3 separate regions of the Homo sapiens genome follow, and all the other regions are linked to region 3. Evidence: fine-mapped expression QTL. A gene starts in region 3. Each other region holds a variant in brackets. All regions are shown on one strand. Distances are between the middles of the regions. Region 1 overlaps IL16 (interleukin 16). Region 2 overlaps TMC3 (transmembrane channel like 3). Region 3 holds the start of STARD5 (StAR related lipid transfer domain containing 5).

Evidence for each region. PIP is the estimated chance that this variant, and not a neighbour inherited with it, causes the effect.
Region 1: its variant is the best candidate, but not a certain one, in a credible set for the expression of STARD5 in monocytes (Quach 2016, PIP 0.52).
Region 2: its variant is the best candidate, but not a certain one, in a credible set for the expression of STARD5 in skin (TwinsUK, PIP 0.82).

Annotation. Positions count from the first base shown.
Region 1 is chr15:81,284,281-81,289,507 of GRCh38, forward strand. It overlaps IL16 (interleukin 16), which reads left to right. Exons shown (of 19, transcript NM_172217.5): 10 at 1,418-1,550. Among named protein-coding and RNA genes, the nearest start is that of STARD5, 37 kb to the right of the region's middle. RefSeq lists an enhancer at 2,498-2,577. The variant A/G (reference allele first, on the strand shown) is at 2,707.
Region 2 is chr15:81,350,772-81,355,998 of GRCh38, forward strand. It overlaps TMC3 (transmembrane channel like 3), which reads right to left. Exons shown (of 22, transcript NM_001080532.3): 9 at 4,954-4,997; 10 at 923-1,070. The region is part of intron 3 of TMC3-AS1 (TMC3 antisense RNA 1); the gene reads left to right. Among named protein-coding and RNA genes, the nearest start is that of TMC3, 21 kb to the right of the region's middle. The variant CTG/C (reference allele first, on the strand shown) is at 2,433.
Region 3 is chr15:81,321,912-81,327,138 of GRCh38, forward strand. It overlaps STARD5 (StAR related lipid transfer domain containing 5), which reads right to left and starts at 2,230. Exons shown (of 6, transcript NM_181900.3): 1 at 2,090-2,230; 2 at 988-1,037; 3 at 497-629. The coding sequence starts at 2,188. TMC3-AS1 (TMC3 antisense RNA 1) reads left to right here and starts at 2,422. Exons shown (of 7, transcript NR_120365.1): 1 at 2,422-2,650. RefSeq lists a silencer at 2,722-2,771.

The sequences.
Region 1 (5,227 bases), 38 kb before region 3:
TGCCATCCTTTTAAAGGGTTTCCTACAATTGCAGTGTATGGAAAAGCCATCCCTGCTTATGATGCTGTCTCTCTGGAGCTTCTGAATTAGAAAGGGATTTGCTGTTATCTGCGGGAGGGTGGCAGGTGATTTGCTGAGCTGCTCTGCTGGTTTGTGGCACATACTGCAGGTTCCATGTGGTTGTCTTGGTCCTAGTACCCTCGGACAGAGAGTACCTCCTTCTTAGATCTGCAGTGGAGTAGGGATTGTTCTGGAAGCTTCTGCTTTCCTTAGCATCTGGTGCTATACAACCATGGCCTTCAGTTACAGCAGTAAAAAGGAAGCAAGGGTGAAGGAGGATGAACTCAGCAGAAGGAAGTCACAGAACACAGCAGGGGACACAGGGAAATCAGCCTCAGGAGGCTAGAGTTCCAATCCTGGACCTGCTGATGACCAACTAGGCCAGGGGTCTGCAAACTGGGGCCTATCACTGTTTTGGTTTTGTTGTTGTTGTTGTTTTAATAAAATTATATTGGAACAAAGCCATGCTCATTTGTTTATGCCTCGTCTATGGCCACAGCTGTCATGCTATTAATATAACAGCAGAGTTGAATAGTTTCGATAAAGACAGTATGGCAAAGCATGCAACACCAAAAATATTTACTCTCTGGCCCTTTGCAGAAAAAGTTTGTCAATTCCTGAGCAGACCTAGATCAGGGAAATCTATTCAACCTCTGCAACTCAATTTCCCTATCTAGGTCGGGAAGGGGACTGGATTATACAAATCTTCCATGTATCTATGTGACCCCGTGTTTCCTACCTTTTTTTTTTTTAAGGTTTAGGTTGCTATTAACTCCCTTCCCACCTCACAACTAGAATGAATGCCATCACCTTTTCTCCTTATTTCTTTTTGCAAGAATCTCAACTGCTCTCCTGTTGAGTTATTTTTTCTCTGCCTTTTAGCACATGTAGGATGTTAGGTCCGATATTCAACATCCTGTGTGTGCTATGTTAGATCCAATCCTTCCTTCTAACTAGTCTACTTATGGGAACACAGAGGCCCAAGGAGAGGATGTGGTGGATTAAATCCTGGTTAATTGTTATTTAGTTGAATTGGCTAACCCACACCCTCAGTCTTTAATGGGCATAGTTAAATGTGAAAAGAAGGAGGAAAGTTACAGATGAACTTTTGTTAATGTTGACCCACTGTAAATAGGAAATGTCTGCTGCTTTGTGGTTGTACGGTAAGGGGGTATGGGATATGCTACTTTGGTCTGCCCTGTTCTGAGTTTTGGTCTGGTGGCTAGTGGGGTCTACTTATTCATGTGATTTTTATATCTCATCAAACAGCCCAGCCAGGAGTGGGCCCCTGGGGCAGTGACTGTTCAAATGTCTCATTGATTCACTTACTGATGGCTTCTTATTGATGCTTGCACAGGTGTGGGGACGAGATTGTGGAAATCAGTGATTCCCCTGTGCACTGCCTGACGCTCAATGAAGTCTACACGATCCTGAGTCACTGTGATCCCGGTCCAGTCCCCATCATTGTTAGCCGACATCCAGACCCACAGGTAACACCCACTGGGTTATCCTCTTCTTCTCAGGCTCACTCGTTCAGTACCAAAATTGGAACAAGAAATAGATGAAAACAGAGATGTTGCTGGCTGGGTTTGTACCTGAATTCCCAAGAATCCCTTCCAAGTTTCTGTAGTAAGAATTGTCTGCAGCAGAGGTCCACTAACAAACTCCTAGATATCAGAGGCAATTGACATTAACTTAGGGAAGCTCTTACAGCTGAGTTATAAGCTCTGGGGCAGGAAAGTAGAGACCCAGGGTCCCAGCTAGTAGACCAAGAAATTTATTCATTTATGCGTCTAGTAGGTACCCACTGTGGGAATGTCTGGAGGTAGGTACTGAAGATACAGAGGCAAGTTCATAGCACACAGTCCTGCCCTGCAGAAGCTCACAGTATCAATAAAGAGCCTGACATACAAATAATTGCAAAACAGAGATGGTAAGTCCTATGAGAATACAGGAATATAGCAGGGAATGGTTGATAAAGTAAAAAAATACCAGAGGTTAGTTTTCTCCAGGCAGAGAATATAAGGAAGATCATTCCAGGAGGTGGGAACACAAAATTCAATGTCACAGAGTCAAAAAGGGACCTGACATGGAAGGAGAGGAGTGGGTTCTGTGGGGCTGGAATGTAGGGTACTAGGTAAGAGTGACTGAGAACAGATGTTGGCAGGGCATTGGGGTTACACTGCAGAGGGCTTTCAACAGGATACTAAAGAGTTTGCATTTTATTCTACATAGTGAGGAGCTATGGGAGGTCTGTAGCTGTAGAAGGAGCATGTTCATATTTTAATTTTTAAACCTTTGATTGCACTGTAGAAGACAGGATAGAGTGGGTGGAGTGTGGGGTTTGTAAGAGGAAGGAAGCTGATGGTGAGAGCCTGAACTACACAGCAGCCATGAGAAGAGAAAAGAGAAGGGGCAATGTATTAGTCTGTTCTCCCGCTGTTGATAGACACATACCTGAGACTGGGTAGTTTATAAAGAAAAAGAGATTTAATAGACTTACAGTTCCATGTGGCTGGGGAGGCCTCACAATCACAGCAGAAGGTGAAAGGCATGTCTTACATGATGGCAGACAAGAGAGAATAAGAGCCAAGTGAAAGGGGAAACCCCTTATAAAATCGTCAGATCTTGTGAGACTTATTCACT[A/G]TCATGAGAACAGAATGGGGGAAACTGCCCCTATGACTCAATTATCTCCCACCAGGTCCCTCCCACAACATGTGGGAATTATGGGAGCTAAAACTCAAGATAAGATTTGGGTAGGGACACAGACAAACCATATCAGGCAACATGAGGCAATGCTTGGGAAGACTCAACAAGAGCTGCTGGGCAAGTGGCTCTGGGGTAAGAGAGGGAGGAACCGAAGATATCTCGAATATTTTTAGATTGGAAGACTGAGCAATGGTCTTCCACCAGAAGAGAGAAGAGGAAAAGGTAGCAGGCTTGGGAGGGAGAGAAGAGCATGATCTTACTGTGGGACATAGTGAGGTGGAGGTACCACGGGGTGTCCAGGTAAAGATGCCCAGTAGGCAAGTTAGACTTAGGGCTGATAGCAACTATAACAGGAACCCAGGCTGGAGCTAGACTTGGGGGTTGAATCCCTGCTGTTGGTGAGAGCTCTGGGGAACCTGGAATAATCACCACAAAGAATTATTTAATCTTAATATGCACCAGGCATGTTTTTCAAAGATGTGACCCACACAACTGCATTTAGTTGTTGTGCAGCCTCCTGAAATCAGTGTGATATTTCCCCCCCAACTCACAGATGAGGAAACTGAGGCTTAGAAAGGACAAATAAGTTTCCCAATGGTGAAGCTACTAAGTAAAGAAGCTAAGATTTAAATCCAGCAAAGCCTGTGCTTTGAACTCACTGACTCCCAAACTCCCAGTGACACTTGGACAGAGTGGAGTAATGAGGGAAATCAATATATAATGGTGTGGTGGAATTCAAACCCAGCCCCATTCTGTGGATTGCACACTGGAGCTAAACACAATCAGAGACAAGCAAACTTCTTAATTAAGGCAAACAAATAATTGGCCTAAATCTCTGGACAATACAAGAAAAGAAAGAGGTCCCAATTAATTTGTCATTTCCTCCTGCTGCTTTTAGGACTACGGCAGAAAATCAGTGGAGTAGGGCGTCAGGTTGTGGGCAAATGCTGTAGCCCTGGGCTTAAGGAATGTGCATTCTCCCAGAGACATGGGACACACACAGAGAGGCCACAGAGGTGAGGGCCTTGAGAGTGAGGGAGCTGGAGTTCCAGCTGCTCAGATAAGGGAGCCAGGCCAGAAAGGACAGGTAAGGTTTAGAGCAGCAGAAAGACGAAGACACCCTAGGCCGTGGAGATCCAGGGGCACAGGCATAGGGCAGAGAGAAGAGAGCCAGGCCCAGCAGCAGAATGCCTGGCATGTGTCCAGTCTGCTGCTTGCTTATGGTTAATTTGGGCAACTCATCTAACCTCCAAGAGCCTCTGGTTCCTCAACTCTGACATAGGGGAGTGGTCTTTACCTTACAGGACTGTTGTGGATGGTAACTCTCCTCTAGTAAGAGTTTACCATCTGCCAGGCATTGTGCCGCAGACTTTAAATGATTTATTTATTGTTGTTTATTGTGGTAAAATACACATAACATAAAATTTACCATCTTAACCATTTTTTAAGTGTACAGTTCAGTGGCATTAAGGACATTCTCATTGTTGTGCAACCATTGCCACCATCCGTCTCCAGAACTCTTTCCATCTTTCAGAATTTAAACTCTACCAGTTAAACAAGTCCCTATGTTCTCCTACCAGCAAATCCTGGGAACCACCATTTTACTTTCTGTCTCTGTGATTTTGACTACTCTACGTTCATCGAAGTGGAATCATATAAAATGGGTCCTTTTGTGTCTGCCTTATTTGACTTCGCGTAATGTCCTCAAGGTTCATTTATGTTGTAGCACGGGCCAGAATTTCCTTCCTTTTTAAGGTCGAATAATCTTCTAGTATGTGTATGTGTGTGTGTGTGTGTGTGCGTGTGTGTGTATCACATGCTGTTTATCATCTGTTTTTGGGTACTTGGGTTGTTTCCACCTTTTGACTATTGTGAATAATGCTACAATGAACGTGGAGTACAGATTCCTCTGAGATACTGACTTCCCTTCTTTTAGGGTATATACCCAGAAGTGGAATTGCTGGGTCATATGGTAATTCTATTTTTAAGTTTTTGAGGAGCCTTCAAACTATTTTCCACAGTGGCTACACCATTTTACATTCTTATCAACAGAGCCCAAGGGTCCCGATTTCTCCATATCCTTGCCAATACTTTGTTATTTTCTTTTCTTTTTTTGAGACTGAGTCTCACTCTGTCACCCAGGCTCGAGCGCAGTGGCACGATCTTGGCTCACTGCACTGGGTTCAAGTGATTCTCCCACCTCAGCCTCCCTAGTAGCAGGGATTATAGGTGTGTACCACTGCACAGGCTAATTTTTGTATTTTTAGTAGCGATGGGCTTTCACCATGTTGGTCAGCCTGGTCTCGAACTCCTGACCTCAAGTGATCTGCCTGCCTCAGCCTCCCAGAGTGCTGGGATTAGAAGCATGAGCTACCATGCCCAGCCTCTTTTCTTTTTGTTTATAGTAGCCATCCTAATGTCCTAATGTGTGTGAGGTGGTAACTCAGTGTGGTTGTGA
Region 2 (5,227 bases), 29 kb after region 3:
TATAGATAAATTGGGCCAACCTTTCAGGACAATGGTCTTAAAATGAATATTTAGAATTCCAAAATTGTTCATAACCGTTCACTTGGTGATTTTCTATTTATGGGAATATTCACACAACGGGGGTTGGGGGGGAGAAGATTGTTTAAAAAACAAACCATTTGTGTAGAGCTGGTTCTGGAAGCATTATTTGTCATTTAGATATTCAGAAACTACCTAAATATTCACGAATGACACCTGGTCAACTTTAATCCATACTATGGAATAAGTGTAGTTGTTAATTCCAGTCTGCAGGAATGTGGAACATGGATGTGAAGAAACAGATGTGCAAAAGGCAAAACACAGTCGGTGAGGCTCAAAGGTAGAGAACGGTGTAAATGCTTGAAGGTGTTTTTGAATCAAACTCTTTCCCAAAGGAGATGAATAAAATTGCCAAGCCTTAGTGCTGCCCCTCTGGCTCAAAGTCCTTATAGTCAATGCTCTAGGACAAGAGGACTAAAGTTTTTTCCTAGAGATATTCCCACCTAACTTACATAAGGAACAGAGAGGCAGGCTACTTTTCTGTGTCTCTCTCTCTCTCTTTTTTTTTTTTTTTTTTTTTTGAGACAGAGTCTCGCGCTGTTGCTCACACTGGAGTGCAGTGGCGTGATCTTGGCTCACTCTAGCCTCCGTCGCCTGGGTTCAAGGATTCTCCTGCCTCAGCCTCCTGAGTAGCTGGAACTACAGGTGTGCACCACGACGCCCAGCTAATTTTTGTGTTTTTGGTAGAGATGGGGTTTCATCATGTTGGCCAGGCTGGGCTGGAACTCCTGACCTCAAGTGATCCACCTGCCCCAGCCTCCCAAAGTGCTGGGATTACAGGCATCAGCCACTGTGCCCAGCTATGTCTCTTTTCTAGGGTGCTGCAGGTAATGGCAGTGGGTACCTCATTCTTTTCCCAAAGTGTCAGCTCCTTCTTCGACTGCTCCAGCTTCTGGGACCGGTCCACCACAAAGTAGATGAGATAAATGCTCCCAGCCAGTGAGAGAAGCACCAGGATGTTGGCAATAATCCTCAGGCAGATGGTCACTGCCCTGGGGAGAGAAACAGGCATGAGAACGGTACACAGGGTCCTGCTCACAGCACCACGATGCAAAGACAACACTACTTGGGGACTGGAACACATCCATTGCCAAGAGGATTCTCTGCCCTGAAGCATCAATGCACTTCCAGCCCACCCCACCCAGCACCCTAGAATTCCTCATTTTCTAAGAGATCAACGACCAGTCATAAATTCAACCAGCCTGCATCAGTGGGGTTTGAAACAAACAGACGAACAAATAAACGCCTCTTGTTTTAGAGTCAGAGTATTTGGGGTTCAGTTCTAGCTTCACTACTTGAAATTGGAGTCTTGTGGTATGCACATTAAAGATATAGGAATTCAAGTAAATGTGTTCAGCAGAGGGAGGGAGGAAGGAAGGCAGGGAGGAAGAGAGGAAGGGAGGACACATGATTCTGCCTGTCATCCCATATAATGAATCTGACATTGTACAGTCATGTGCCGCATAATGGCATTTTGGTCAATGACGGACTGCATATATGACAGTGGTTCCATAAGATTATATTGGAGCTGAAAAATTCCTATGGCCTAGGACATTGTAGCATGATGCATTGCACTCACATTTGTGGTGATGCTGGTGTAAACAAGCCTACTGCACTGCCAGTTGTATAAAAGTATAGTACATACAATTATGTACAGTACATATTTGATAATGAATTAAATGACTGTTACTGGCTTATGTATTTACTATATTTTTTAAATCATTATTTTAGGGTATACTTCTACTTATTTAAAACAAAATGTTAACTGTAAAACAGCCTCAGGCAGGTCCTTCAGGAGGCATCCAGGGTAAGGCACTGTTACCATAAGAGATGACACCTCCGTGCGTGTTATGGCCCCGAAGACCTTCCAGTGGGACAAGATGTGGAGGTGGAAGGCAGTGATATTGATTATCCTGACTCCGTGCAGGCCTAGGCTAATGTGTGTGTTAGTCTTTTGTTTGTTTGTTTTTTGTTTGTTTGTTTGTTTGAGATGGCATTTTGCTCTTGTTGCCCAGGCTGGAGTGCAATAGCACAATCTCGGCTCACTGCGACCTCTGCCTCCTGGGTTCAAGCGATTCTCCTGCCTCAGCCTCCTGAGTAGCTGGGATTTACAGGCATTTGCCACCACACCTGGCTAATTTTTGTATTTTTAGTAGAGACTGGGTTTTCCCATGTTGATCAGGCTTGTCTCAAAACTCCTGACCTCAGGTGATCTGCCCGCCTCGGCCTCCCAAAGTGCTGGGATTACAGGTGTGTGCCACCACATCCGGCCTGGTCTTAGTTTTTAACAAAAAAAGTGTAAAAAGTTAAAAAAATTAAAAATAAAGCTTATAGAATAAGGATATAAAGAAAAA[CTG/C]TTTTTGTACAGCTGTACAATGTGATTGTGTTTTAAGTATTACAAGAGTCAAACAGTTTTTTAAAATTTAAAAGTTCATAAACAAGTGACAGTAAACTAAGATTAATTTATTATTAAAGAAACTTTAAGAAATAAATATAGTGAGGCCTAAATGTACAGTGTTTATAAAGTCTACGCTAGTATGCAGTTGTGTCCTGGGCCTTCACATTCACTAATCACTCATTCATTGACTCACTCAGAGCAACTTCCAGTCCTGTAAGCTAATTCATGGTAAGTTCCCTATACAGGTGTACCATTTTTTAATCTTTTATACCACATTTTTATTGTACCTTTCTATGTCTAGATATGTTTAGATACACAAATACCATTGTGTTACAATTGCCTACGGTATTTAATACAAGTAGCATGCTGTTCAGGTTTGTAGCCTAGGAGCAATTGGCTATACTATATAGCCTAGGTGTGTAGTAGGCTATACCATCTAGCTCTGTGTAAGTACATGCTATGATGTTCACACAAGGACAACATTGTGTAAAGACACATTTCTTGGAATGTGATCCTGTCACTATGCAACATCTGACTATTCCTTTGGTAGTTTCTTAATTGTCTTTTCTCTTTAGAAGTAAGCTCTAAGCTTTTTAGCCTTTTTCAATGCTGTTATCTTCAGCTCTTAAAACAGGCTTAGCATATATGGATGCTTCATAAATATTTGCTAGATGAATAAGTAAATAAAGGAGCAACTAATTGCCCATGAGATGGGAGACACAGGGCTCATCTCTTTCCTAATTTGGTCTCACTTCTCATATGCCTCTGATAGTGAGGGCAGGTGTGTGAATCAGTAATGATTCTAGTACTTACATACATGTTTCTGGTTTTAACTGAAACATATCCATTTTTTTCTAACACTGGAGGACAACTCCCTGTCTGACTTCAATTGGCCTATTTTGAAGGCACCTTCTTCTGCCAACTTTGGAGCTTGTCTTAGCCTGGCTAAGGCCTGGAATCCCAGTCCTTTTTGCAGATAGTTTATTTGGGAAGTGATCTCAGAAAGCAGGAGTGGAGGTTGATCCCAGAAAGCAGGAGTGGAGGTCCTGGAGTGGAGCAGGAGAGAGGGGCCATCAGTACAAGGATATGCAATGGGGTTGGCAGCAGCTAGAGGCAAATGCAGGGCCTTCTGAGGGGCTTATGAAATGCCTGACAGAACTGTTTGCCCAGTGTGAAATAGGAAAGCATTTCTTCTATTCCCAGCGGTTCAGGGTAGCTCCATGAGCATTCACTCCCAGCATTGCACCCAGCCTCTTGGTTGCACGTGCATGTGTGTTGACTGGGATCTTGTGGGTTCCCTATGCAGCAGCCTCAGAAGATCCCTGGGGCACCAAACAGCGGGTACGAGCAAGGGGTACATGTGTGCAGCTGGTGGTGGCCTGCACAGTCCTGCCCAGTAGCAAGGGCTGGAGAAAAGTATGGCCAAGAGGATTTGAAGGGGCACCCAAGGTATACTATCTTCTCCATGAAATTTCTACCCACTGGGGACCTTGGGCAGATCACAACTCTTCCCTCTACACATGTTTTGGCCCTTGATTTGCACAATGAGGAAACATTCCCAAATGAGAAGATAAATGTCACTTTGCTTGGTAAAAATAACAACATGGCACAGTATGTTGTTATTATTATTATCAACTCTGGTGGAGGAGAGCTACAGAAAAAGAATCAGATGGCAGAATCCCATACTTTTATAGGTGAGGAACTTCAGGTTCATGAAGTTCAGGAGCATTTCCCAGGTTATCGACATTAATGACAGAGAGGACTAGAATCCATGTCTTCTGACTCCCTATGGACAGCCCTTTCCAACTCCTCCCCCACTCCCTAAGCTCCCTCATTATTCCAGAGGCTGGGTGTGTTTCCTTAATTCCCCATGTCCTTTTGTACAAGTCCTCCGAATGGGCTTTCTGCACTGTGGAAACTAATCATGAGGGCTAAATAACCAGTAAGGATGTGGGATGAACAGACCTACCTGTCTTCATGAGGTCAGGGCCATTGCCCTTCCCTGGGAATGGCTTTCCCTTTCATTAGTTCTCTGTTTGAAGGGCTTCACCCTCACCAGCATAGCTCTCAAGATCTTGAGAAGAATCTTGAACCTAGGAAATCATCTTGAAAGGCTTGTGAACACCAACTGGATAATATTTGTGTCTTATGACTAGTTTCTAAATAAAACTAGTCTTAACAGCATAAGTTGGTGCTCAAAATACCTCTTTTATTATCTAAGTAAAAGAGTAAGAAATAAGAAACTGGTCAATTTCAGACCCTGTGACCCTTGTTACAGGATCTATGGAAGGAGGAAGTCGTCCTAAATATTGCTAAGGAAAAAATCATTCAGTTCCCTCAGATCACATTATGAGAAAGGAAGAAAGAAGAGCTGCCTGACAATTATGAAAATAAGATATAGATGATCTGGTAGTTTTTGTACCAAACTAAAAATAAAACTTATCAATGAATTCAGCATGGGGAGTAATAATACCTACAGGTTTTTGCTTTTCTTTTTCTCCTGTTCTTCCAATATAGCTTCCTTTAAGAAAAATACATACAGCAATAAAAGCTTAGCATCATCATTAATTATAAATCATTAGAAATAATTTACCCAGTAATTTAGCTCATACCTTCATTGTCTAAGACTTTATTCTGTAGGATTCAATTGATATAAATGAATTAGATATCAATAATCTAATCAATTGAAAAAATATTGGCGGTTGGGAAGAGGGATTGGGAGATAGTATGGCTGTAATTTAAATTATCTAA
Region 3 (5,227 bases):
ACATGCTTTGCAACTTATGAAAATTTAGTTGTAAACTAAATGTTATTAATAGACATCAACTGGATGTGTGAGGATGATGCATAATTTCTCAAAAATCTGTTGGATGCATGTAAGCAAAAAGCGTGAAGACCCTCATACCAGAGGGTAACTGGGGTCATGCAGGTACGTGGAGCTGCTACTGGCCCAGGCTTCAGGGAAGTGGGTGCCAGGGGCTGAGGATCCTGTGTTGCCTAGTGCAGCAGCCCCACACAAGGAACAGGTATGCTCCCCGCAGAGACTCTGTTTGGGGCTTCTCTCCCTCTCTGAGTCATGAGGTTTCCCACCGGGAAACTGGGCTGAGGCAGGCCTCCAATGCTGCAAGCAGTGGGCAGCCTGTGCTTGCAGGACACACCCCCTTAACAAAAGGTATCACGGACCCCTTCCAGAAGAAATGGGAGGGGGTTACTATAGCCTGGCCCAGACACTATCTAGAGATAACATGCTTGGAAAGACTTACGTCAGTGATGCTTTGGATAATTTCAAAACCGGTCACATTCTCATCCCACTTCACTCGTAGGCCTCCAACAGCTGGCTTCACACAGTCCCACACCTCCTCTAGTGTCCCATATACAATGCCTTCTCCTCGGTACCTGGAGCACGAAAAGGAATTTGACCCCAACGCATCAATCAAACTTGTTATCTTGAGATTGTATCTAAGGACTAGAAGGTGGACCATGCCATGTCTGTCACTACTCTTTAGGACAGACTTGCAGAGAAGGGGCTGAAAGTCACTAGCCCCGCCTCCCTTCAGGCCTGCAGAAATGGACAGTAAGCTTTCACAAGAATACAGTTTGCTGGAAATGATTTCATTAAAAACAGTAAGGCTTTTCTGGAGGACAAGTGATCACAGGTTATAGGGTTGATTTGAATATTTTAGGAGGCAGGCCCATAAAGATACCAGGAAGGGTGCGGCACCTCTGGTAATCTTTGAACGAGGCATGCACTTACAGGTTCCCTGGAAACTCCACAGATGGCCTCCAGGAAACTGAAACTCCATTCTGTCAAAAGGCACAGAACCACAGAATTTTAGAGCTAGAAGGGCTCTGGTCACCTGGCTTAATCCCCTGTTCTACAGAAGAGGGGTAAGAGGCCTCAAGAGATACGACTCTCCAAGGCTGTGCAACCCATACGTGGAAAAGCTGGGACTAGTCTTGGGCAAAGCTGTCCCCACAGCAGAATGTGATGAAGAAAAAGATCTTAACTGGCTGACTCCAAGAGCCGTGGGTGGTTTTTAAAATTATCTTAAAAGCCACCAGGCATTCTGTTTCCTTGAGCAACCCAGGGCTACTTAATGAAAAGTCAGAAGGGTCAAGCAAAACTACTCCCATGCTACCCTCTGGCAACGACAAAGAGAGGGGTTCATGCTGTAATGAAAAGTCAGAAGGGTCAAGCAAAACTACTCCCATGCTACCCTCTGGCAACGACAAAGAGAGGGGTTCATGCTGTAATGAAAAGTCAGAAGGGTCAAGCAAAACTACTCCCATGTTACCCTCTGGCAACGACAAAGAGAGGGGTTCATGCTGTAATGAAAAGTCAGAAGGGTCAAGCAAAACTACTCCCATGCTACCCTCTGGCAACGACAAAGAGAGGGGTTCATGCTGTAATGAACACAGAAGAAAACCTTAGTATGCATCAGATGCTGGATCAGACTTTACTGGATTTAAACAACATGTAAAAACCTCCTTAGCTGCGACCACATTCTTTCATTTTGTTTTGTTTTTAAACACCTGCTTACCCCTTAAATGCAATTTATTTACTTTTACCACTGTCACAGAAACATCCAGTCCTAAACAGCATTCAACAGCCAGGTGACCTTGGGCAAGTCACTGAGTGAAAGGAACAGATACTTACCACCTGAAGTCATTGTGAGCATAACAGGCCCAATCTTTTTTTTAAAGAAGAAAACAATCCCCATTGGAATCCCTCTCAATCGGGTCCAGGGGATTGGGGAGCAGAAAACAACGGGGAGAGGAGGCGCTTGGGGGCTTCTGGGGACCCGGGCTCCACGAAGCCGTCTCCGCGACCCCTTCCCGCCCAGCTCCTCACTCACGCCTTCCCGGCAAATCTTCCAGCCTGCTGTGTCCCGCCGGTACTGGAGCATCTTCTCGGCCACAGCCTCGCTCATCTGGGCTGCCAGCGCCGGGTCCATTGCGTCGGGAGCTGCGCTTAGCTGCGGGGTCGCGGGTGTTATGAGCGGCGGCGCTGGATCCCGGGTGCCTGGAGGCTGGAGCTCTGGGAGGAGCTCGTAGCCCCGCCTCTTTCCGCGCCCCCGCTCCCGAATTGGTCCAGGCCCTCAGACGGATCCCGCCTCCCGGAGATTGGCAGGACAAGGAGACCGCGGGGCCAGGCTCTCCAGTTAGCGTCAGCGCCTGGGCGGGTCCCGGACGCCTTGGGCGGGCCGGGTAAGGTCCAGCCGTATCCGCCTCCTTCATGTCCCGCTGTGGGAGGGGCTCTGGAGCGCCGGGACTGTGAGATGGCCAATGACGGTCTGACCCGTTGGGCCGGGCCAGGTCGCGGACAACGTCGACCGTTTGTTTAAGAAGCGTGGACTCTTGTCCTGAGTGCACCGAGGCTTTCAGCCTGCGGGACAGTGGTGCGATTTGCATTAGAGGTAATATGCTAGGGCGGCTGCTGCAGGGTGGGAGAGGAAATGCGCGTGGAGACTGGGCGCGTGCAATGGTGGGAGAGGTGTGTGGCAGGGGTGCGGGGAGTGGGGGTGAAGAGAAGAGGACCCATCGTAGAGTGTTTAGGAGATGGAAGGTGAAGGTCTCTGCCCCCGATTGTGGATGTTCAGAAGGAGAAAGCATCATGACTCCCAGCCTTGGCCACCTGGCAGCTTACCTGAGATGGAGAAGAGATAGGGTGAGTTCAGTTCTGGGCATATTTAGTTGGAGGTGCCTGAAGGGCCTTTAGTGCAGGTGTCCAGGAGTCAATGCAATGCGCTGACATCTGCGAGAGGCCCGGCTTTATTAGAGATATGGGAGTTCTCTGCTTCCAGCTGCCCTGGAGCTGCGGGGAGTGAGCCAGGGTCGCATCTTCACAGCGTGAATGGCAAGGACAGCCTCGGTTTCCCCTCTTCTGCGCTATCACCAACTAAATATTTGAAAAGGTTAATACTGAGGTCTATTTCTTATCTTTCTTTTTTATGTACTTATTGTTTCCTTTAAACTTTCGATATAAATGTTTGGAAGAGTAGTGTAAACAAATTGACAACTTGAAAGACCTTTTTGGAAGATGTGAAGGGCAGCCAGGCTGTGAAGAAGACCTGGATGGGGAATTAGGGAGCTCAAGATCTAAACCCAGTTTCACTCATTATTCTTTGAGCTTCAGTTTACTCCAAGGTGAAATGGGATACATCATAAATGTTCCTGGCGGGGTCCGGTGGCTCACGCCTGTAATCCCAGCACTTTGGGAGGCTGAGGCAGGAGATCACTTGAACCTAGGAGTTCGAGACCAGCCTGAGCAGCATGGCGAGACTCCGTCTCTACTAAAAATTCAAAAATTAGCCGGGCATGGTGGCGCGGGGCTGTAATCCCAGCTACTTGGGGGGGCTGAGGTGGGAGGATCGCTTCAACCCGGGAGGCAGAGGCAGCAGTGAACCGTGATCGCGCCACTGCACTCCAGCCTGGGCTGCAGAGCAAGATCCTGTCTCAAAAAGTAATAAAAATAAACAAACAAACAAATAAATGTTCCCTATGCCCTTGTGAAGAGAGAGGGAAGTAACGCATGTAAATACTCTTAGGACCCATAAAAGAAAAGACTAGTAAATTAATCCCATTAAAAAATTAAGCACATCAAAATTTCATAAAAAGTTAGATAATATGAGAAAAAAATCGGGACACACTTTAACACATAAGTTTTCTTATCGAACCAAGGGCTCATACAAATCATTAAGCAATTTTCAGACAACCCCATAAACAAAAAGAATGCATTAGACATGGAAAGATACTTTGTGGAAAAATTAATTGACATGGCTAACAAAGCTATAAAAAGATGCAGAACCTCACTCATTGTTAGGGAATTAAAAATTAAAGCAAGGAGAGGCTTTTCTTAAAACCTATTGATGGACAAACATGAAGTTTGTTTATACCCTGTGTTGGTGAGGGTATGGAGAAATAGTTGTTACACAGCGGATGAGAGTACAAATGTATGCAACCTCCTGGGAACAGAATAACAACATATATTAAAATTTTACTCTACTTGTTCTTTGATCCAGTGACTCTTCCTGCACAAAGATGCATAAAATTAATCTTGCAACTGGAAGTAACCTATTTACCAGTATATTAACCAAAGTTATAGAACATCCACTTAGTGGAATATTATGTAGCCATCAAAATAACCTAGCCCAGATGGTGGAAAGTGGGGATGGAGTAGACCCCCTGCAGGACTATAGTAGCACTATTTTGCTCCTAGGAAATGGGAACGTCTGGATATACAAAATATTTGGAGAAGCAAACTGTCCCCGAGGCCTGTGACAAACTGGAAGTAGGAGATTGGTGAGGTCAGGGCAGCCTTCAAGCAGAACACTCATTTATTTTATCACCGGAGGCCGGCACAGGGCAGAGTGAGCAGATGATTGGAACAGAGGGAAGGTGAGAGCTGCCCACACAGTGTTTGCCAGGGGCCTGGGACAGAAATCTATTTTGTAGTCTGTCTGAGGCTGCAGTTTGGAGCTGAAGGGGATGGAGGAATGACTGAGCTCTGGAGATTCCACTGATCAGAGCCCTTCCCACAAGGTCCTGAGAGGGCTCTGAGTCACCCAGTTGTCCACCAGACTTCATCAAAGTCCCAGGTGAATACAATTAATAGGTGTATATGGGAGCAGGTAGCCCAGTAGCTTCTAACTCAACACCACCACTAGACAGACTATAGAGGGGATGGGCCCAAGTGTCCACATGCTCCAGTCTTACAAGGCCCTGAATAGAGTGGAGTATCTGCTTTCCACTTAGACACTGATGAAGAATTGCATGCATATTTACTAAGTTAGCTTGGGCAGGTGCTATGTGAATCTACAAATGTAAGCACGTCGGTATGTTTATTGCTTACTCAGCAATAGCTAATCGTTACTCAGCACTTACTTCTTGCTAGCCACTATCCTAAGCACTTTACCTGTTTTGGGCCATTTAACTTAACAATACCGCAGCACCATGAGATAGAGACTACTACTCCCATTTTGCAAGTTAAGAAA